Regions from separate parts of the Homo sapiens genome. Here all the other regions are linked to region 1. Evidence: fine-mapped expression QTL. A gene starts in region 1. Each other region holds a variant in brackets. All regions are shown on one strand. Distances are from middle to middle. Region 1 holds the start of RBM27 (RNA binding motif protein 27). Region 2 overlaps RBM27-POU4F3 (RBM27-POU4F3 readthrough). Region 3 overlaps LARS1 (leucyl-tRNA synthetase 1).

Evidence for each region.
Region 2: its variant is fine-mapped to the expression of RBM27 in whole blood (TOPMed, PIP above 0.99).
Region 3: its variant is fine-mapped to the expression of RBM27 in whole blood (TOPMed, PIP above 0.99).

Annotation. Positions count from the first base shown.
Region 1 is chr5:146,199,471-146,207,658 of GRCh38, reverse strand. It overlaps RBM27 (RNA binding motif protein 27), which reads right to left and starts at 4,054. Exons shown (of 21, transcript NM_018989.2): 1 at 3,835-4,054. The coding sequence starts at 3,893. It overlaps RBM27-POU4F3 (RBM27-POU4F3 readthrough), which reads right to left and starts at 4,054. Exons shown (of 20, transcript NM_001414499.1): 1 at 3,835-4,054. The coding sequence starts at 3,893. RefSeq lists enhancers at 3,839-3,998, 4,469-4,618.
Region 2 is chr5:146,282,572-146,290,759 of GRCh38, reverse strand. All of the region lies in intron 18 of RBM27-POU4F3 (RBM27-POU4F3 readthrough), which reads right to left. It overlaps RBM27 (RNA binding motif protein 27), which reads right to left. Exons shown (of 21, transcript NM_018989.2): 20 at 6,028-6,138; 21 at 1,537-4,813. The coding sequence ends at 4,730. Among named protein-coding and RNA genes, the nearest start is that of POU4F3, 52 kb to the left of the region's middle. The variant G/A (reference allele first, on the strand shown) is at 4,467.
Region 3 is chr5:146,135,138-146,143,325 of GRCh38, reverse strand. It overlaps LARS1 (leucyl-tRNA synthetase 1), which reads left to right. Exons shown (of 32, transcript NM_020117.11): 20 at 242-454; 21 at 3,065-3,122; 22 at 7,662-7,725. It also overlaps the pseudogene RPL35AP16 and the pseudogene RPL35AP17. Among named protein-coding and RNA genes, the nearest start is that of PLAC8L1, 34 kb to the right of the region's middle. The variant C/T (reference allele first, on the strand shown) is at 3,327.

The sequences.
Region 1 (8,188 bases):
GAAATATCTCCCGTTACATGCATATGTTTCACTAGGGACAAGATGTAACATTTTAAAAATCCCCCGGGAATTGGAAGCTTTCATAAATTTAATTTACTGTAAACTAAGCTAAATAAGAAAATGTAATAGAAAATCATGTGCACACAGGCTGGGCGCAGTGGCTCATGCCTGTAATCCCAGCACTTTGGAAGGCCAAGCAGGTGGATCACAAGGTCAGGAGTTCAAGACCAGCCTGGCCAACAAAGTGAAACCCCCTCTCTACTAAAAAATACAAAAAATTAGCCGGGCATGGTGGCGGGCGCCTGTAATCCCAGCTACTCGGGAGGCTAAAGCAGGAGAATCGCTTGAACCCAGGAGGCAGAGGTTGCAGTGAGTGCCACTGCACTCCAGCCTGGGCAACAGTGAGAGATTCCACCTCAAAAAAAGAAAGAAAAAGAAAGAAAATCATGTGCACAGTCATAGTTTGATTCCAACCTAGCCGGTGCAACTATACTATCTCAAAGCCTAGCAACTGCTCTGAAATGCTATGTTGTAGCAACATGCCAATCTGCCATGAAAATTTTCTTGAATCTGGAATATGCAAAAAAGTAAATTTACAAACACAACCCACTTTAGCATATCATTTATTACATTTTAGGATATCTAAACAAACAAAAAATAATCTCCCATGATGACATACTAAGAATAAAAATATATGTGGTATCTGCATTTACTTTTTTATTATTAATATCTCCATTCAAAACTGTTACTTAGGTGAGTTAAAAATAAGTATTCTAGACCAGGCACAAAGGCTTATGCCTGTAATCCCAGCACTTTGGGAGGCCGAGGTGGGTGGATCACCTGAGGTCAAGAACTGGAGACCAACCTGGCCAACACAGTGACACCCCCGTCTCTACTAAAAATACAAAAAATTAGCCGGGCATGGTGGCAAGTGCCTGTAATCCCAGCTACTCGTGATGCTGGGGCAGGAGAATCGCTTGAACCCAGGAGGCAGAGGTTTCAGTGACCTGAGATTGCACCACCACATTCCAGCCTGGACAACAAGAGCGAAACTCCATCTCAATAAATAAATAAACAAACAAATAAAGTATTTTAGCCTTTTTTTTTTTACCCTAAATGAGCAACAAAATTAAAAAAAATAAGCATGTGAACTTTAAGTTGAATATATAACTCAAAAGGAGAAACTAAACTCAAGTAATCATTTTGAAAGATAATTTTTACTCATGAAAATTACAGAATGATCATACTTATGAGTCTAAGTAGCTTTAAAAAAAAGAAGGAAAAAAAAAAAAGCCTAAGCAAGAAGAAGCTCCCACCCAGACTAACCTTCAACATTAAGGGGAAAAAAAAAAAAACAAAAAACGAAAAGCACTACTCAGAGTAAAACATCTTAGGGAGCTTTAAAAAAAAGAAAAAGCAAGTAACTATAAGGCTAAAAGTTGTTACCTTCTATCCAAGACATAAAATGTATGTTTAATTCTTCTTAAAAGGATAGCTACCAACAAAACTAAACTTGTCTGGAAAGTAGGTTGTTTTTTCTAAAGGCATCAGAGCAGCAGAAATACAAAATAAAGAGATGTATTTTTTCTTTTTTAATCTTAAATAACATGAATAACACTTTTTTTATTTTTATTTTGTTGAGACGGAGTCTGGCTCTGTTGCCCAGGCTGGAGAGCAGTGGCCTGATCTAGGCTCACTGAAACCTACACTTCCTGGGATTCAAGCGATTCTTCTGCCTCAGCCTCCCGAGTAGTTGGGACTACAAGCACGCCCCACCACAGCCGGTTAATTTTTATACTTTCAGTAGAGACGGGGTTTCACCATATTGGCCAGGCTGGTCTTGAACTCCTGACCTCATGATCCGCCCGCCTAGGCCCCCCAAAGTGTCGGGATTACAGGCGTGAACCACCGTGCCCAGCCACATGAAGAATACTTTAAACATACAGATATTTTTCTTTTTTCAACCTTTTCCCATATATGGTCAATTTCATTACATCCATCTTATTTCCCACCTTCACCACAAACCATTTCCATCTTTGTGCCCAAAACTTTATTGTAGGAGTTAAAAAAACCCCTATTCAAGAGACCTATATTCTTCTACAAAACCTTCAAGTGTGTTCAGTCATTTTCACTGAAAGAGATCAACAGGGAAGTAGCTTGACACTGTCCCCCAGAAGTTCCTTTACCATGCCTCCACACCTCCCAAACTACTCCCTATTTTCACCTCCGAAAAACACTCAAATTTTCCACTAATGCAATCTGACCTAATGAATCAAAGCCTGCCCATCTCTTCTTCTACCCCTTTCTTTCAAGCAGAAAGCTCTAACCTTCAATAAGAGAATAATAAAGCAGAAGCAAGGAGGAGGCAAAACATGATTCTTTCCCTTCCAGTAACTAGCCATACCCCATTCCCCCAAATAAGCACTCCACAACTCTACCCTTTAAAATGGTTATCAAACATGGCCGGGTCCAGTGGCGCACGCCTGTAATCCCAGCACTTTGGGAGGCCAAGGCGAGCGGATCACCTGAAGTCAGGAGTTCGAGACCAGCCTCGCCAACAAGGCGAAACCCCATCTCTACTAAAAATACAAAAATTAGCTGGGCGTGGTGGCGCGCGCCGGTAGTTCCAGCTACTCGGGAGGCTGAGGCAGGAGAATCGCTTGAACCCGGGAGGCGGAGGTTGCAGTGAGCCGAAATCCAGCCACTGCACTCCAGCCTGGGAGACACAGCGAGACATTGTTTCAAAAAAAAAAGGTTATAAAACAAAATGTTGATACATCTGTTACCTCTTTCAAGCCTCCCAATAACATTTCTACTAACACCACCCAAAATATTTTTAAAAGACAGGTCTCTCATTCTTTTCGGTCCCTCATACTACACCCCAATTATCTTCAGGTGTCCTCTCAATCTTACAAAAACATTTACAAAACTGTCCTCTCAATGGCACAAGAATACTTACAAATCTCTTATTCTTTCTACCGCTCCTTTTATTCCTCCAACACCACCTGTATCTAAAAATCCCTACATACTGTTAGGTATACTCCTCCACCAATTAATGCTGCATACCAGTGTAGCCCTTTCAACCTTCAACTAAACTTACAGAAACCTCTTTTTTCCAACCTCTATGTATCTAAAAGTCATCAGTTCCCCTAGCACTATCAAGCCCTCAATAATACTTTAAAATCCCTTAATATCCTTGCTATCACACTTATCACCTCCCCAATAATTTCTAAAACCCTTCAATGCCCACACATCCTTTTCATCTACTCCATAGTATTTTTCAAATCCTTCAATATTCTTGATCCCTCAGAACTTACCAATAATCGCTATACAGTTTCAATGTCCCTGCTATCCGCTTCTGCCCTCATATTTCGAAAATGCCCTCGATATTTTGCTTCTAGACCTTTCAGTCCCGGAATAATAATGTTTATCAAACCCTTGATATTCTGCTATTCCCTTCGACATCTCAATATTCACATTTTAAAAATCCCTCAAGAGCCCCGTTACCTCTCTCTCAGTTCTCAAACAGCAATGTTTTAAATTCCCTCACGGCCCCTGCTACCCCTTCCAGCACCCCGATATTTGCGTTTGAAAAGCCTTCGCTGTCCTTGCCTGCCCCCCCAGTCCCCATATTCACGGCGCCTCTCCGTCCCCAGCGCTCCTCTCCCACCCTCACCCCCACCACAATGGTGATAGTACTACAGGGAAGGCGTCGCCGGGACCTCCCGGCCGCGGCCCCTCAGCGCCGCCCCCCACGCCACCTCCCCTCCCCCACGCCCCCGCGAGCCCCCAACGCCCACGTTCGCCGGCCCCGGCCCAGCCCGGCTCACTCACATCGGCTCCAGTAACTTGGCCAGCCAGGACTTGAGGGCATCCACATCCTCTATGAGCATGGTGCAGGGAAGGCGGGCTCGGCCGCCGCTCTTCTTCAGGCCTGCCGTGGGTCTCCACTACGCCGCCCCCTCACGTTCCCTTCACAGCTCCCGGTGCCCCAGCCCACCGGGCATCTTAGGAGACTTCAACCTACTCCCCCGGCCGGGGCCTAACAGGAACTAACCCAAGAGCCCTCACTCAACCTAGCCCGAAGGCTGAGGTGGGCGGGAGACAGTGCCGAGTGGCAGGCCTGAGAACCAGTAAGAGAGAGGGGGCCCTGAGGGCAAGACCAATGAAAAGGCTCGCTCGCCCCGCCGGCAGGCGGTACCCAGTCAGGGAGGAGAGATATAGCAAGGTAGGTGGAGAGCTTAAGTGAACTCCTGGTGCAAGATGGTATCTTGGAAAAGGTGCTTTGCCTCTTAAAGGGGCAGCGGCGCCTTTTTTTGACCACGCCGCCGCCCGCCGCGGAATACCGGTGTCTGCTGCTGGGAGTGCCTGGGGGAACCCGGCGAGCCCCTCAGCCTGGTTCCTTCCTCTCGTTTTTCTTGGAAACACACACTCGTGTCCCGAAATGACTCAGCTGTAGTAAATCTGCAACACAACGTGCAATACGTTCACGTTCGACACATTGCACAGAATGCAAAATTTTACTTTTTTTCTTTACACACTCATGTTGATTGGCACTCACGTTTGTATTTTCTGCTGCTCTGCTTTAATTACGCAGAATGTTTCTGACAACCATGCCTTGGAATCCAGTAATCGTCATTTTTAAAACGTGGCGCACGGATGTAAAAGGCTGAGGCCATTTCAATTTTGCTAGTACTATTAATAAATGTTGCTTTATTTAGGAAGAAAAATGACTCCAATAGTTTGTTTTTAATTATCTTTTCATTGTATATCTAAAATTCAGTGGTTGGGGGACGGGAAGGGAGAATTTTAATCAGCAAAGAAGGATTACAAAAAAATTTTTAAGACAAATTAGAAACTACTGAAATAGTCAACTTACTTTCTAGTAGGTGAGAAATTCTTTCTGGAGTTTTGAAATCACTGATTTAGCACTGATGTTAAAATGTTTACCCAATAACATATACTGAGTCCCTGCAATTGCCAGCACTGAGTAAGGCACTAGGAGTCCAATGCTGAGCAAAACAGAGCTTCTCCTCTTAAGATGATGAACAGTTTATGGGGTTATGCATTGTAATAACATTTTGAAAAATACCTAATGAGCACGCACCTCATATAAAAGAAATGGATCAACCTCAAATAAACAGACATCCTATATATACATAGAACAGGTATAGGCAAACTTCTGCAAAGGATCAGATACTAAATATTTTGGTTTTGTGAGCCTTGAGGTATCTATGGCAACTACTCGTCATACAATGTCTTGGCTTAAAATTAACCAGGGACAATATGTAAATGGAATGATTGTGGCTGTATTACAAACATTTATTAAAATTATATAAAATTTTAAATTTATATAATTTTCACATACCATGAAATATTATCTTTTCATTTTTTTCTCCATTTAAAAATGTAGGCCAGGCTGGGCGCGGTGCCTCACACCTGTAATCCCAGCATTTTGGGAGGCCAAGGCGGGTGGATCACCTGAGGTCAGGAGTTCCAGACCAGCCTGACCAACATGGTGAAACCAGTCTCTACTAAAAATACAAAATTTGCCAGGCATGGTGGCACACGCCTGCAATCCCAGGTACTCGGGAGACTGAGGCAGGGGAATCGCTTGAACCCAGGAGGCAGAGGTTGCAGTGAGCCAAGATCGTGACAAGAGCCAAAGAAACTCCATCTCAAAAAAAAAAGGGGGGGCTTGGCACGGTGACTCATGCCTGTAATCCCAGCACTTTGGGAGGCCCAGACGGGTGGATCACCTGAGGTCAGGAGTTCCAGACAAGCTTGGCCAACATGGTGAAACCCCGTCTCTACTAAAGATACAAAAATTAACCGGGCATGGGACGGGCGTGGGCCAGGCGCAGTGGCTCATGCCTGTATTCCCAGGGCTTTGGGAGGCCGAGGTGGGCGGATCATGAGGTCAGGAGATCGAGACCAGCCTGGCCAACATGGTGAAACCTCGTCTCTACTAAAAATACAAAAATTAGCTGGGCGTGGTGGCGCGTGTTTGTAGTCCCAGCTACTCAGGAGACTGAGGCAGGAGAATCACTTGAGCCCAGGAGGCGGAGGCTACAGTGAGCCGAGATCATGCCACTGCACTCCAGCCTCAGCGACAGAGCAAGACTCTGTCTCAAAATAAAAAAAAAATTAGCTGGCTGTGGTGGCACACGCCTGTAATCCCAGCTACTCCAGACACTGAGGCAGGAGAATCGATTGAACTGGGGAGGTGGAGGTTGCAGTGAGCTGAGATGGTATCACTGCCCTCCAACCTGGGCAACAGAGCAAGACTCCGTCTCTAATTAATTAATTAATACAAATAAAAATGTAAAGGCCATTGTAACCTCACAGGTGTACAAAGAAGATGCCAGCAGGGTTTAGCTTGCTGGCCACAGTTTGTAAACCCCTTACATAAAGTAGTAAAAGCAGAGGTGCACTTAAAAATAATGTAATGAACCTCCCTCACTAACCCCCTCCTCATAACTTTGCAAATGAAAGAAAAGGTCCAGAGAGGCAAGTGGTTTACCCAGAATTACACCTCTATGGAGTAGAAGTAGCATCCAGAGGTTCTGACAGCAAGCCAAGAGCTTTCTCACTTGCAACTCTTGCCTCTTCTTTTCTCTCTCCTCTTCCTCCTCCTTTTTTAAAGTTTATCCACATTTTCCCTTCACTTCGAACAGCTACAGAAGTTAGCTGGGTGTGGTGGCACATGCCTGTAATCTCAGCTACTTGAGAGACTGAGGCACGAGAATTGCTTTAACCTGCGAAGCAGAGGTTGCAGTAAACTGAGATCAAGCCACTGCACTCCAGCCTGGGTGACAGAGTGAGACTCTGCCAAAAAACAACAACAAGAACAACAACAAAAACAACAACAACAAACAAACAAAAAAAAACCCTAGCTCCCACCTTGGATCTCTTGTTCAGGGGAAAGCTAGTCATCATGTTTCAAGACATTCTAGCAGCCCTGTGGAGAGGCCCACGTTGAGAGGAACTGAGACAACTGAGACCCCTTCCCAACCAAGGGAGAGTGGGTGTGGTTATAAAAGTACAACATGAGGGACACTTTTGGTGTTGGAACTGTTTTGATTTTTGACTGTGATGGTGGATACAGGAACTACAGGGTGGTAAACTGAATAGAACTAAACTTACCTATAAAGTCAAGTTGATGGCTGGGTAAAAAAAGAAAAATAGAACCAAACTTACATATGCACAGAAGGGACCTCAAAAAGTTCATGGAAAAGTGCAATTAAAAGAAAAATAAAAACCACAAACTTTATTTCTCAACATAAGCTTTATCAAGTTCCAGGCACATTGAGAACATACAAGTGATACCACACAAATGATACTGGGCATTTAGTTCATCCCTAAAGAACTGAGAGTCCTGGGAATTTAGCCATGTCAATGCAGTCTTTTTTACATTATGAACTGAAGAAAAATGGGACCCTTTACATATTTTTTAAACATTAGGAAACAAAAAGAAGGCAGAAGGAGCCAAATTAGGACTGCAGGGTAGCTGCCTAATGATTTCCCATCAAAACTTTTGCAAAATTGCCCTTGTTTGACCAGATTTTTTTTTTTTTTTTTTGAGACAGTCTTGCTCTGTCGCCCAGGTTGGAGTGCAGTGGTGCAACGTTGGCTCACTGCAAACTCCGCCTCCCAGGTTCACGCCATTCTCCTGCCTCAGCCTCCCAAGTAGCTGGGACTACAGGCACCCACCACCATGCCCAGCTAATTTTTTGTATTTTTAGTAGAGACGGGGTTTCACCATTTTAGCTGGGATGATCTCCATCTCCTGACCTCATGATCCACCCTCCTCGGCCTCCCAAAGTGCTGGGAATACAGCCGTGAGCCACCGCACCCGGCTATTAGATTAATGAGCAGGAGCATTGCCAAGATGGAGAAGGAATCTCTGGTGAAACTTTCACAGATGTTGTTCTGCTGAAGCTTCAGCTAATTTTCTCAAAACACTCTCATAATAAGCATATGTTATCGTTCTTTAGCCCTCGAGCAAAATGCCTTGAGCATCCCAAAAAAACTGTTGCCATGACCTCTGCTGCTGACCAGTCTGCTTTTGCTTTGACTAGCCCATTGCCATTTTCTTGGTAGCTATTGTTTTGATTGTGTTTTGTCTTCAGGATTGTACTCGTAAAGCCGTGTTTCATCTCCTGTTACAATTCTTTGAAGAAATGCT
Region 2 (8,188 bases), 83 kb before region 1:
AAAAATAATTTAATACAATTGCAAAGAAAAAGTAACAGCAATGTTAATCGTGCTTATGTTAACGAACACCACTACCACCACCACCACCACAAAAAGAAATGCTTGCAGAAGCCTAAGAGTAGATGGAAACACAAATAACTCACAATCATCCAACACTATTCTGCCCTTGATTTCACCCCATATCAAATTGCCTATCTTAGAATGTTGAAATGGTTTAGTTAACCTAAGGTCAACTGGAGAACAGGGAAGAGGCCAAATGGTAGATGATCCTGTTGAAAGGAGAGATCTTGGCAATAAAACCAATTTAGCATAAATGAAGGTGATTCATAATACAAGCAGTAGCAGTAGATTGCCTTTTCTTTTTTCTTTTCTGGGTCAATTTTGGTTGGTCTCTCAAGTTAGGTCTTTCAGACTAAAAATGAACATAAAATGAGCAGCTCTGCACAGCAAGGTAATGTTGGTCCATTTAGTCTAAAGCAACCCTATCATCCAATATCCCCACATGTTGATAAACACAATTCTGTGTTTACGGTAACATATCTAGATCCAGATTTGACTGTATGCTGGGGCTTATTCAAAATTTATCCTTGGCTTTAGCACAATTTACTTCAAAATCAGTAAAAATATCACATAAAATCATTAATTTCTGTTAATGAGAGCTCCATCTTAGTAAAACATTTGATTTGTTCAATAGATATAACTATGTTCAGAATTTGCCTGCTCCCTCCAAAAAAGTCCCAGAACTAATGTTTATTGTAAATATATTTAGGATTAATTATGATCTACTCAAAGCAAATGGTGACAAACAGCTTATTTGCTATTTACATAATACATAAAATAAATTTTATTTGAAAGGAATGAAAATAACTTTACTCTCATTCTTTGAGTATTTTCTTGTATAAGCTGAAATTCAAAGAATGTTCCTTCTTAAACAATGCATAATCATTGGAGGGGGAATTTTATAATAGCATTTTTTAAAATGGGAAAACCAGGTGATACACTTCCCTTCTCTTTCTCATCACCACCCAGTCCTTAGTGCATAACATCACTATCTTCCCGTTTGTCCTTACAAATCTTTGTCACATTCAGAACTGATTTATGTTTAAATCATCTCTTCTAGGTGTTTTTTCCCTTCTCCCTATTCTACTTAAGGAAAATGTCCCTCCTACTGATGGCAGGCATAATGAATATCCTCAAGACAACATTAAAATAATTGCTTTCAAGAAACTGTTTTGTGCTTTTTTATCTGGGATACCAAGAACCATCCAGGAACAAAATAATGTGGCTATCAAAGGTTACTTACAAGTAGCATTTTAATACCTTCTCTTTCATTCTCCAGGCTACTCTGTTGAGAAAGTTATCCTACTTAATATTTAATAGCCAGTGACTTCGAACCCAACTTCATATTGAGTGATGTTCTCTCATGTTTATGAACACAACATAAAACACACATACATAGCCACTACTCACTCACTCTCACAAGCAAGCATACACACACATTTTCTTTCTTTCCAGAACAAGCCAGAATTACAGCTCTTTTGGTGATTGTTATAATTTTTGGAATGGTTCATAAATTTTCCAAATTCTTTTAAATTTGTAATACTTTCATCTTTTTTCTTTTTTTTTTCCAATTGTGAACCATTCCATATTGCATCTTTATTGCAAAAGTCAACATGCTTCTTAGAAATTCAGATTGTAATTGATAAAACAAACATTACATATATGAATTTAAATGTATAAACAGTTAGAAATTCAACAATATCTCCTATTATACTATTACACAAGTTCACAATTTTGTAAAAACTATAATACAGGCATACTATACATCAAGAGGAACCACTATTCCTTTTCACATGATTTTTTTCTTTTTTGAAATAATGATCCATCACCAAGGACCCCTTTCACCTTAACAAGACTGTTTTCCAATTTATCATCTTAGCTGGTAACAACATTTCTTCAATGTTACATAAAGAAATTGAGGGAAATTTTGCAATACTTGGGGTTACCTTTTTATCTTGGACAGTGATCCACTAGTATATCAGGCTGACCTAGTCAACTGGTGGCTATTATTGCTGATCAGCTACTTAAAAAGATGTCATACACATTAAGAGGGACAGAACTTGCTTTAGATGCTGTATGTTATTTCTGTAAATGAAGATGCCAAGAAAACATGTATGGCAGTTATTCACTTTTAAGTGAAATTCTAACAGTTGAAGATTTGATGGTGGAAGTAAATCCCAAAGGGGGCAGGGGATATATATAAACTATTTTATGCTAACCTGAAGTTTTCCAGTATTATAATTAACTCACTTCAAATTCATCTTTGAGTCAAACATGTTTTAAAATTCTTTGAAAGCACACTTTTAAAGTATTTTTAGTCCTGTTTAAGGTGTACTGAAAACTTATAGAAAGGGCCTCAAACCTTACTGAAAAAACTGTTTTTCACTTTAACACACTTCTATCTTCTGCCCCCAATACTAAAAAGTCAAATTTTCAACTTTTTACTGAGAGTGAAATAAGATGTCCATTTTGAGGTCAAAAAAATCATATGAAAAGGAATCTCATTCTGTTGAACTGTCTACTGAAATTTTTCTTAGAGTTCCATTTATTTACTGTAATTTTCAGTTTCCAAATACAAAAATACAACAATTCTTATTGAAATCTATACGCTGGTAGTTTTAGTACACAAAAAAAAAACCCAAACAAATTATTTACAAAATTATACAGTTTAAGAAAAAACTTTGTACAAAAAATATATAAATCCTTTGTTCCCTCTATCACGTTTAAACTGTCAGGACTCAAAATATTCACCACAATGAATCTTTCAAAATATATACTGACTGAGCCACAGACATCAAGAAAAATTTCATTAGAGATGATGGAGGAGTAAGGAGCAAGATTGTGTATTCTAGATACACCATTCTGATGTTTTCCTTCTTTTATAAGCTTATTTTACCTTCAGTGTTACTAGAAATATAACAATAACCTAGAAAAAGGAAGTCCTCATTATTATGAAAGAAAATTATATGAACTTAAAAATGACCCTGGTTTGACACATCATTCCAGGAAAACATGTAGAAGAATAAAGATTATCAGAACGTGGGATTTAACTTCTTATAGCTAAGTAAATCTAGAATCCTGATGGTTTTAAGTTCTTAGTGAATAGTTTCTATATTGAGAAATTGTCTTTACCTCAGCAAACAAAATCCTTGATATAGTGGTCACCAAGACCCTTTTGGAGACAACAGGAGGTTTCAAATTTTCATACCACACATATATAAAAACACAGATGTGTATATCCTTGAAAAAGTGACAGCCTAGGTACATTAATCATTTTATTTTCCCAGGGGTCAGTACAGTGTAGTGTTGCTCCTCTGCTTTTCCATCTAACATTCAGAACACGAAGACATAAATTTACATATATATTTTACTTAACAGATACTCTACTCTATACAGTGTACAGTAAAAATGCACACAGTAAAGGAAACTGTCTACTGAGGGATGCGTATGTTCATGGATAGCAACAAGCTACAAAATTATGAAAAAATAAGGTCATCTGAACAAAGTCATATATGACTCCCATTTATTACTAGCATACTCAGCCCTCAACCCCCTCCCACCTCCACCCCCCACCCCCCAGTCACCTCACCATCATGGTTTAAATTTAGGAAAAGAATTTCAGACATTTTTAAACCCTTCTGTGTAACTATACTGAACTGAAGCTTCAAAAGAGGGAAAAAATAAAGCTGGTGATTCTCTTCTCCCCAAAATCCTTCCATCATTCTCATCAAAACATCACTTATTTATCCAGGTGCTGGTTTGAACCTTTTATTGGAGACTGCCTGCGGTTGCCCAAATGAACCACTTATATCAATGATGACTAAGTCAGGCCTATTAATAGAAAGGCAAGAGGAAGAAAAGGGGGACGAGAAAGGGGCAATAGGTGAAAGCCTTTTACATTCTGAGTTATAAAAATTTTTAAAAAGACCAGCCGAACCAGCGCTCACTAAATATCAAAGCAAACTAAGAATCAGTAGCAGGAAAAGTCCAGGAGTTCATATGACAAGAGAATGGAAATACTATAGAGCTAGCTACCATTGCTGTAGCATTTAAGAACACACAGTTTGTTGTGATTTTCACTGAACTAGTACTACCACACATAAAAACCATGAAAAACAAATTTAGACTGAATACAAATTGGGCTCCTCCAAAGTAAAAAAAAAAAAAAATTAAAATTAAAATAAACATATTTTTCTTCCAAGACCACTCTTGAAAGCAAAAGGGTATTTTAATTACAAATATTTCCTACTGTCTGATGACCCATCCATAACAACTGAGAGTTAAAAGATTACAGGTGATTTTGACATTTAATTAAATTTTATCAGTAGATTATAATCCAAAATAAAATTTCTGAACACCCTGTCATTTACATCATAATCCAACACCAACAGCAACAAAAAAAAGGT[G/A]GTGTGGAAAATAAGGCTCTAGAGATTATCCATGTCATTGCTGTGGATCTTCACAACTGTGTAAAAGTCACTAGGCCTTTGGTGCTTTAATATCATGTACAGTTATGAGATGTGTTTAAATAGCAAACTTGCTGTTCTTGAACCTACTGTGTTGAAAAGAAAAATAAAAAAATTTTTTTTGGCTCATTGACTTCTTTTAAATAATTTTTAAAAGTTGTTCTTCTAAACAATATTCCTAAAAATTATACAGCTAGCATCAGATTTCATCTTCGCCATGAGCGAGACTCATATTCATCTTCATCTTCATCGTCATCATCAGGCAAAAACAAATCTGAGGTTTCTGTTTCCTGAAGAAAGAGAGGTTAAAATCTGCTTAGTGGCACAAGAATGGTAAGTAAAATACTTTTTAGGCCAAAGGACAAACAGGCTAGTATACAAAGCCCAGGCTAGATTTCATAAGGGATGCATGCAAGAGTATCTTTCAGGGCAAAAAAAAAAAAAAGCCCAAAATATTTTTGTAAATGAATATGAATTCTTCTCCCCTGCTAATTTTGCTACTTTTAATAGGAGATTTCTACTCTAATATCATCAGGAAAATAATGTGGACATTTAGTACAGAAAATTTAAAAAAGACTATGAGATACATTTCTGATAAATTAAAATTAATTTTATTCTATAAAAAATTAGGAAAATAAATGACCAAACACCTAAATCTTTGTTTTTATATCCATCCAATTGTTTGTGAGAGGTGAATATACTAGCTTCCCCATGACACTGATATTCCAAATCTTATATAAAAATCTAAAATCTTAGACAAAGTAGATGTATCTGCAAACACTACCCAAATACCATGACTTCTGTTTTTCTTTTAATCTAGGGAACATTTCTGCTTTTGCTGTGTAAAATTACCTATATAGTGAGAAGACACTTGATCAAACTATAAATGCTAGCTAGGTATCTTTTAAAACCAAGATTGTCATATAAATCAGGAAAACCTCGCAATATAGCCTAAGTGTTCACTAAATAAACTAATGATAAACAACAGGAGTAAAAAAGCAAAATAAATTCTCATATATTTTAAGAAGCTGATTATTCAGTACTTTTATTATTTAGGTCTTTAGTTTTCCAATTCTCTCCTCTATGTTCAACTTCTGCACACTCTGATTTTAACCAATTGTACACAGAAGGAAAATAAGAAACTCAAATCTATTACTATGGAACTTGAATAAACAAAAAGTGAAACCAACCAATTAAAGTTTAATTCATTTATGTAATCTCTGACTTTATTCATCAGAATAAAAATTTCTAGAGCTCAAATAAATCCAATATAAATGTAAACAAAAAAGAACAGTCTTTCCTATATCAGAAGAAAATAACCCCTAACACAGCTTCTTATATCTCTAGACCTGTTTTAATTCTCTAATAAACATCTAAACGGGTCTTAATTTGCATGCATGAAAGAAAAACCCAGCATTTTTTAATTTATACTATTTAATATCATAAAAAATACATAATTGAGAAGTGATCTAATTCAACTCTTATTTCCAACCACTAAATTTACCTCCTCCTTGACTTCTTCTTCTTCAGTCTCAGTGGATATAGATGGTACCTTGGGCTTGTGCCATGATATCTGTAGCCGACGGTCTTTAAATTTTGGCCCTTGGTTTGCGGTCTAAAATATATATTAGAAGAACATACAAGTTTGCACTCAAATTTACTAATGATTTCTGCAAATTCTGTGTTATTTAAAAAGTATAACATAGGGCAGGAGAGAAATCTGTTAAGGTGGATCTACAATCTCCAATGAGAGCTAAAAAAAATAAAGTCCCTTTTAATTAGAGCAACTATATGTTCTGGTTTGCCTAGGATAACCCATGGTTTATATCTGTGTCAGGTAAATGTTAGCATCTGTCTTGGTTGAAGAAATAATTTTTTTTCTAAGTAGAGTTGCTCTACTTACAAAAGTCATGATGAGGACAAGAAATATTCTTAATACAGGTATTGACCTTTGGCTTTGATATCTACATATATAGACTCAAACCTTAGAAAAAAGGTGAATCATCTGCTTATTCATCTCACTGCATCTCTCACAGCCCCACCTATGTTGGATAAAGTTCTTCTTATTTCCACTTCTGAAACGCTATACACTAATAAGCACCTCCCAGCTCATCTATGCATTCAATAAACATTAAACAAATGCCTAATACTATCCTAACTCATAAAACTGCTCCATTTCAAATGTTACTTGGTACTAATTTTTAAACATTTTTTTCTCCCCAGCAAATTCCAATAGGGGAAAGCAAATTTTAAAGACAAAGCAACACAGACAAGGGACTAGGGATCCAAAGTTTCAGAAAAGTAGAAGTTTAGCCATCCCTATAGCTTTCCTATCAAAGGTCCTCATTTATAGAACTGGGGGTTCTAAAAAACATAATAGAAGAGATTCTTTTTTATTTGGGCTTTCATTCTAGTCTATCTAGCAAAATCATTGCTAAACCTCCTGAAGCATTTGCCAAATGTTTCCATAAAACACTTGGAGCATAGCATGGTGAGAATGTACATTAGAGCAGACTCATAAATCCATTACTGCCTGCACAGACATCGTCCTGTGTTCTAAGGGAAAAATTCCCACCATTCCTTGAAGGGTCTAAATGCTCATAACCTAACACCAAACATTATGACTCATGGGACATACCAAACTGATGTATCAAAATAGCCCTACCAAATATAGATATGTACCTTTTTTTTTTCTTTTTGAGACAGGGTCTTGCTCTGATTCCCAGGCTGGAATGTGCAGTGGGAAGATCACACTCACTGCAGCCTCGACTCCCTGGGTCCAAGTGATCCTCCCACTTCAGCTTCCCAAGGAGCTGAGACCACAGGCATGCACCACCTCACCTGGCTAATTTTTTTATTTTTATAGACGGGGTCTCCCGATGTTGCCCAGGCTGGTCTCAAACTCTTGGGCTCGAGGAATTCTCCCACCTTAGCCTCCCAAAGTGTTGGAATTACAGGCACGAGCCACAGCACCTGGTCTATATTTACCATCTTTTAAAAATTAGGTAATGTACGTAACAGAGATCCTTTACCCTTTACTCTATCCTTTAACACACAGCCCAATTATAGAGAGGCTTTCCCTGCTTGTTTTGTTCATTTCTTTATTATTTGAATTTCTAAATAAAAACATATTACTTTTATAAACAGAAAAAGTAATAAAGATTTTTAAATCTGTAATAACTGTGTTGCTCTCCAAAGAGGATAAGAGGTCTGTCCTCCAAAAGGAATATTAAGGCATTAAATGTATTGCATATACATTATTAAAGGAAGAATAAGAAATGTATACAGAGTCTGAAATTAAGAACAAATAATTTCTACTATCTAACTTACAACAAATCAAATAAATTAGCAATTAGAATAAAGATATATTATGACGCTACCAAGTTAGGAATTCTCATACACAAATGGTGAGAATCTCAAACTGATTCTAAACTGGTAAGAATCTAAAACTGATGGGGTTCACTCAGCAATTCCACATACAGTCATCACTTGGTGTTTCTGGGGGACTGGTTCCAGGACTCTCTGTGAATACCAAAATCCATGAATGCTCAAGTCATTTACATAAAATAGTGTAGTATTAGCATGTAATCTACACACATTCTCCTATATACTTTGAATCCTCTCTAGATTACTTATAATATCTAATGCAATGTAAAAGCTATGTA
Region 3 (8,188 bases), 64 kb after region 1:
TTATTTCACAGAATTTTGTCATGATATTTTTGCTTTTTTACTATTGAACTGGGAAAAATTAATAAATAGCCCCTTACTGTCATCATCTATTCTTCATTCTTATGGAAGCTGTTGTCCTTATTTGTTCCTGTAACTACATTAAGAAAGAGATTCCTAATCCATGTTTCGATTCAGGTACTGATTCTTCCAAAGAAATTACATATATATATATATAAAATAGTTTGTTTTATTTTTAATACAGACCGCAACAGATGACCAAGGAAGTTTGGGATTATGTTTTCTTCAAGGAGGCTCCATTTCCTAAGACTCAGATTGCAAAGGAAAAATTAGATCAGTTAAAGCAGGAGTTTGAATTCTGGTATCCTGTTGATCTTCGCGTCTCTGGCAAGGATCTTGTTCCAAATCATCTTTCATATTACCTTTATAATCATGTGGCTATGTGGCCGGAACAAAGGTGAATGATAAAATAGGTGTGGACTAGATTTATTGATTGTCAATAGGGGTGTCTTGTGGCTTCAAATATCTAATAAATTATTGTGGAGGGGATGGTATAGATTTGCCAGTTACATTCTTTTTCTTATCTTAAATATGTACTAAAGCAGAAAGGCCACCTCCTATCTCTTACATCCAGAAATCCACATACCTACCCCAGGCACCAAAGCATGTCATATCTCAGGTGCATTGCTGGTCTGCTAGTAATTCATTTGACCTGTTAAATGCAGGAATAATTCTAGACCATTAGAATTGGAAAGAACCTTCTCTTTAGAGCAGAGCGCCCCAAGGTTCCAGCATTAGTTGTGGTAACATTCTGACTAGAGTCTGTTTCTTCAGAGTAATCCTTCTGTCCTTTTCCCTCTTTACCCAGACATGTCTACTTTTCCCTCTAGTTCCTCAAGTAGCTGAGGAAACAAACCTCTCAGTCTGTTCAAATTTTATTTCATAAAACCAAGACAATTTCTTATGCCTTCTTGTATTTAGAATAAAATTACATTTTTTCCTTCAACAATAAAACGAAGATTTTGGAGTAGAGGAATAAAATAATTTTTTTTTTGAGACAGAGTCCAGGCTGGAGTGCAGCGGCACGAACTCAGCTTGCTGCATCCTCTGCCTCTAAGGTTCAAGCAATTCTCCTGTCTCAGCCTCCCGAATATTTTTTATTTTTTTTGAGACAGAGGTTTGCTCTTGTTGCCCAGGCTGGAATGCAATGGTGTGATCTCAGCTCACTGCAACCTCCGCCTCCTGGGTTCAAGCGATTCTCCTGCCTCAGCCTCCCGAGTAGCTGGGATTACAGGTGTGCACCACTACGCCTGGCTAATTTAGTATTTTTAGTAGAGACGGGGTTTAACCGTGTTAGCCAGGCTGGTCTCAAACTCCTGACCTCAGGTGATCCACCCGCCTTGGCCTCCCAAAGTGCTGAGATTACAGGCATGAGCCACCGTGCCCAGCCCAGAGGAATAAGATAAATTTAATGTGGTTCTTACACTACTTGTCATCCACTGTTATTACTTACCTAATTTATTTATTTATTTTTCTACAGAGTCTCACTCTGTCATTCAGGCTGGAGTGCAATGGCATGATCTTGGCTCACTGCAGTCTCAACTTCGCAGACTCACGTGATCCTCACACTTCCGAGTAGCTGGGACTAGCCACATGTCACCTTGCCTGGCTAATTTTGTTTATTTTTTGTAGAGACGAGGTCTCACTTTGTTGCCCAGGCTGGTCTCAAACTCCTGGACTCAAGCGATCCTCCTGTCTTGGCCTCCCAAAGTACTCGGATTACAGGTATGAGCCACCGTGCCTGGCCCTAGTATTTTTCTCTATTGTTTACAATGCATTTGTAGGCAAATTGGTATCTCAGAAGTATTCTTTACCAATAAGTTGAATCTTCATTCCTTTGCACCAATTTTTTTCACATTTGTTAGGTTTTTAAAAATTACAAATAAGTATTGACATCAAGAGCTTATGCCAGGTACTTTTTAAATCACTTTTAATAACTCTTTTTACTATAGCTTTTCGAGGAAGGTCTTTAATATCCATGTCTGTAGGCAGGGAAGTGTACTGAGGAATAAAGAGGAAGAAATCATAATCCAAAGCTACCCAGCTAATGAAGATAGTACAAGTATGCAAACCCAGAGAGATTGGCTCCACAACTCTTGCTCTCAACCCCCCATATGATCTCATTGCTAGAATGAATGAATGACATGTACATAGTTTGAAAATTTAAAGAATACATAAAGGCAAAAAGTTAAAAGTGAACTTTCATCCTTGCCTGCACACTACTCTATTTCCCAAAATTCATCATGATGCTATTGGTTTCTTGTGATTTTATATACCAGCATCTGATATCTCTATTTGTTAATGTATATAAAGATACCACATTGTTTACACTGTTCTGTCTTGTTTTCACATGTATATGTGTGTATATATGTGTATATATATGTGTGTGTGTATATATATGTGTGTGTGTGTATATATATGTGTGTATATTTATATGTGTGTGTGTGTATATATACATTTTTTTGAGAGGGAGTCTTGCTTTGTCGCCTAGGCTGGAGTGCAGTGGCGCGATCTTGGCTTACCGCAACCTCCACCTCCCAGGTTCAAGCAACTGTCTGCCTCAGCCTCCCCAGCAGCTGGGATCACAGGCGCCAGCCACCACACCCGGCTAATATTTGTATTTTTAGTAGAGATGGGGCTTCACCCTCCTGGCCAGGCTGGTCTTGAACTCCTGGCCTCATGATCCACCCGCCTTGGCCTCCCAAAGTGCTGGGATTACGGGCGTGAGCCACTGCGCCCAGCCTTCACATATATTTTTAAGATCTTTTTATATCCATACGTGTAGCCCCACCTAAGTAGTTACGTCATTGTATACCTGTATCCTAGTTTATGTAGCCAGTCCTTTGATTTGTTTTCACTTCCCATTACAAAAAGGACTATAGTGTATATCCTTGCACTTTTATCTTAGCAAGCCTTTATGAGTCTATTAGCTTTTACCTCAAAATTTTAAGCCAGAACTATCATCTTTGTTTTTTTATTTTCTATCTTTAAACATTTATCTGTGAAGTGACAAATGGCCTACAGCTGTGAGAGCAAATGGACATCTCCTCCTGAACTCTGAGAAGGTAAGGCTTATTGCATCTTAAAAGTTTAAAATTCTGTGGAAGGCTTTTCAGATTTAGGTTGTTGCACTTTTTTTTAAATGTATGTAAGAAATAATGTGTCCAGGTGTGGTGCCTCATGCCTGTAATTCCAGAGCTTTGGGAGGCCAAGGTGGGAGGATCACTTGAGGCCAGGAGTTCAAGACCAGCCTGGACGATATAGTGAGA[C/T]CCCATCTCTACCAAAAAATTAGTAAATAAATAAGAAATAATATGAATTAATCAGAGTTAAAAACCTTCTAATTAGCATATTTAGGACGAGGCATAAATTAATTTTTTTTTTTTTTTTTTTTTTTTTGAGACGGAGTCTCGCTGTCTCCCACACTGGAGTGCAGTGACGTCATATGGGCTCACTGCAAGCTCCGCCCCCTGGGTTCACGCCATTCTCCTGCCTCAGCCTCTCGAGTATCTGGGACTACAGGCACCCGCCATCACGCCTGGCTAATTTTTTTTTGTATTTTTAGTAGAGACGGGATTTCACCGTGTTCGCCAGGATGGTCTCAGTCTCCTGATCTCATGATCTGCCCTCAGCCTCCCAAAGTGCTGGGATTACAGGTGTGAGCCACCGCGCCTGGCCTATAAATTAATTTTTATCTTTAAAATTGAGCAAGGGGAGTAGATAGTATTAATTGAAGAGAGAGATAGGGAAGAGTTACCTATTTGTAACATTTGTATTTAGAGTGGCCAAAGGTGACACAAATTGCAACTGAAGTAAAGAGAGAAAAAGAGAGACAGAGACAGGGACAGGAATCATAAAGAGCTTAGCATTGTGACCCAGAAGAGTTTTCTTTTCCTTTTTTTTTCTTTTTCTTTTTTTTTTTTTTTGTTGTGATGGAATCTCACTCTTTCGCCCAGGCTGGAGTGCAGTGACACGATCTTGGCTCACTGCAACCTCCACCTCCCAGATTCAAGCGATTCTCTTGCCTCAGCCTCCTGAGTAGCTGGGATTACAGGCGCATGCCACCATGCCCGGCTAATTTTTGTTTTTTTCCGTAGAGATGGGGTTTCGCCATGTTGGCCAGGCTGGTCTCGAACTCCTGACCTCAAGTGATCGCCTGCCTCAGCTTCCCAAAGTGCTGCGATTACAGGCATGAGCCACTGCACTCGGCCATTTTTTTTTTTTTTTTTTTCACAAATCCACTTTTATTGACTTTTCGTTAGTTTAAATCCTTGAGGGGTACAGCATCACTCCGATTCTGTGTCCAATAGCCTTAGCAGGAAGATTGTTTAGGAATTTGGCATGAACCATGCTACTGTTCCCGTGGGCCTGAGTTACCTTTCCCCAGATTACTCTGGTTTTGTTTGGTTTGCCTCCAGGAGTCACCGTCTGGTTCTTTGCTTTGTATACATAGCACATCTCTTGCCCAAATAGAATTCTGTTTCATCTTGAGCATAAACACCTTCAAATTTTTTTTTCTTTTTCTTTCTTTTTTTTTTTTTTTGAGACAGAGTCTCATACTGTTGCCCAGGGTGGTATGCAGTGATGCGATCTTGGGCTTGCTGAAACTTCCACCTCTTGGGTTCAAGCGATTCTCCTGCCTCAGCCTCCTGAGTAGCTAGGATTACAGGTGCCTGTCACCACACTCGGCTACTTTTTTGTGTTTTTAGTAGAGACAGGGTTTCAGTATGTTGGCCAGGCTGATCTGGAACTCCTGACCTCAAGTGATCCACCCGCCTCGGCTTCCCAAAGTGCTGGGATTACAGGCATGGGCCACTGCACCCAGCCATTTCTTTTTTTTTTTTTTTCCTTTTTAACAAATCCACTTTTATTTATTGACTTTTCATTAGTTTAAATCCTTGAGGGGTATAGCATCACTCAGATTCTGTGTCTAATACCTTTAGCAGGAAGATTGTTTAGGAATTTGGCATGAACCATGCTACTGTTCCCATGGGGCCCGAGTTACCTTTCCCCAGATTACTCTGGTTTTGTTTGGTTTGCTGCCAGGAGTCATGGTCGTTCTTTGCTTTGTATACATAAGCACATCTCTTGCCCACATAGAATTCTGTTTCATCTTGAGCATAAACAGTTTCACTTTTTTTTTTTTTTTTTTGAGATAGAGTCTCGCCCTGTTGCCTGGGCTGGTATGCAATGACGTAATCTCGGCTCGCTGCAACCTCCACCTTCCGGATTCAAGCAATTCTGCCTCAGCTTCCTGAGTAGCTAGGACTACAGGTGCCTGCCATGATGCTCGGCTCATTTTTTTGTATTTTTAGTAGAGACGGGGTTTCACTATGTTGGCCAGGATGGTCTCAAACTGACCTCATGATCCGCCCACCTCAGCCTCCCAGAGTGCTGGGATTGCAGATGTGAGCCACCATGCCCAGCTAACACCTTCAATTTTAAGAAGAGCTGTGTGTTCTGGAGACATTGCTCATAGCCAGCAAAAATGGCCTTGGACCACAGCCTTCCAGCCATATTTCCTTTTAGAAGTCCTGCTCCCAGCAGGCCTCCATAGGATCCAAGATGATGGGAAGAGCTATTTTTCTTAGTAAGTTGAGAAAATGACTCGGTGCTTTTTGTTTTATACTGTGACTGGCCACTAAATTAGTAGAATGATAGAATTTTGGAGTCTGTAAGATTTTTAGATGTCACGTAATGCTCCTTCCCAAGCAGTATAGTAGTCCTCTCTATGCTTCTGCTGTTACTATCACTACTGTTACTATTAATAATATGGGTGATTTTTTTAAAACAGACTGCATAGTACTTTATCTTATTAATCAATATCCTCAGTAGGAGGTTATGCAAACTTGACAGACCCCTCACTTGCCCCTATGATACTTCTGTGCAAATTAGAGAAGGGCACCCCTACTTGACTTAAAAAAAAAAGTACAAAATTATTTATTCCTCATTAATAAAAATGGTAACAAATTAGATTTGTTACAACCAGTGAATTTTGCTGTAACCAACAGAATAGCAATGACTGTATTAGTTGTCATAAGTGTCTATATGTCATAATGAAAATAGTTGTAGGGGACTGGGCGCGGTGACTCACGCCTATAATCCCAGCACTTTGGGAGGCCAAGGCGGGTGGATCACCTGAGGTCAGGAGTTCAAGACCAGCCTGGCCGATGTGGTGAAACTCCATCTCTACTAAAAGTACAAAAAATTAGCTGGGCCTGGTTGTGGGCGCCTGTAATCCCAGCTGCAGGCTGAGGCAGGAGAATCGCTTGAACCCGAGAGGCAGAGGTTACAGTGATTTGAGAACGTGCCATTGCACTCAGGCCTTGCGCGACAAGAGTGAAACTGCATCTCAAAAAAAGGGAAAAAGGAGAAAATAGTTGTAGCTTTAAACAAATGGCAGCTGATGTAAATTGCATTATGTAACATCAGACTTAGCCTGTGCCCTAATATTGAAAGGTAATAAAAGATGTTCCTTTAAGATAATCTGTGGCCGGGTGCGGTGGCTCACGCCCGTTAATTGCAGCACTTTGGGATGCCAGGGCGGGCAGATCACGAGGTCAGGAGTTAGAGACCAGCCTGACCAACATGGTGAAACCCCGTCTCTACTAACAGTACAAAAATTAGCTGGGCATGATGGTGCGCGCCTGTAATCCCAGCTACTCAGGAGGTTGAGGTAAGAGAATCCCTTGAACCGAGGGAGGCGGAGGTTGCACTGAGCCAAGATTGCGCCACTGCACTCCAGCCTGGGTAACAGAGCAAGACTCCATCTCAAAAAAAAAAAAAAAATAGGTAATCTGTATATTAGACTGAAAAACTGCTGTTTAGAAGCACAGGCGATTTTAATAGATTTTGTTAGCTCAATAAGGAACCTTTGATTATTGAACTCATTTCTTCTTTGTAAGTCAAAGAAGAACAATACATTTATTATTCTTGTTAGAACATGACATTTTCTTTGGCTGTCTGAAAGTTGTTGTACTATCCTGATTTTATTAGAACAAGATATGTATTGCCATGTAGTATAATAGAAAACTGATATAATCATCATTTCCTTCTGATATCAGCATAGTTAAACTAATGACATACAATTTTAAAGCGATAAAGATTGCTAGGCTGTGAGTGGTGCCTCTTCCGATGCATTGCCCTAAGGCAGAGCACAACTTGAACAACCGATTTTTGTGACCCTAATGATAGGAGGGTTCCTAAAATCATAACTCCAACCTCATGAGCTGGTCCATTCCATTTCTGAATGATTCTAATTGCCGTAAAGCTCTTTCTTAGGTAACCAGGTGGTGTTCTAGAGTTATAGTGGAATCATTACACATGTCTAACCCAGACAGTATAGGCTAAATCACAGTGGACTGAGTGTGAGTCTGGAGGTCCTCTCCTAGCTGTGTCACTGATAGCTGAGTAACCCAAACAAGGCACTTTATCGGATGAAATTCAGTTTTCACCGCTCTAAAATTAGTGTAATATCTTTTCCTTTCCGTATTTTGAATTCTTTTTTGTTTTTATCTGGTCATGGCCAACCTAGTTAATTTTATTTGGCTCATTTGGTTTATTTATATTACTGTTATTAATGATTGATCACTGACTCTCTATTTCAGATGTCAAAATCCACAGGCAACTTCCTCACTTTGACCCAAGCTATTGACAAATTTTCAGCAGATGGTGAGTAAACATTTTTCTTATTGCTGTTCTGTAGGGTCCAGTTCTCAGATTATAGAAGACACGTTAAAATTGGTGTTTTAATTTTACTTTCTGTTTTGCTTTTAACAAAATTTTAAAATCTTAATGTTTCCTTTGTGGATGAGCAACATAATATTTAATATATAAGAATTGCTGACATGATGTGTTCAGGAACAAATCAAGCTGAAGTTAGTTTGAGTCTTCCTTTAATGAACTCAATATCATTGCTAAGATTCAAGACTTGTTTTGTAGAGATGTTGAGTATGGGCCAAGCGCGGTGGCTCACGCCTGTAATCCCAGCACTTTGGGAGGCCGAGGTGGGTGTATCACCTGAGGTCAGGAGTTCAAGACCAGCCTGGCCAACATGGTGAAATCCTGTCTCAACTAAAAATACAAAAAAAAAAAAAAAAATTAGCTGGGTGTGGTGGCAGGTGCCTGTAATCCA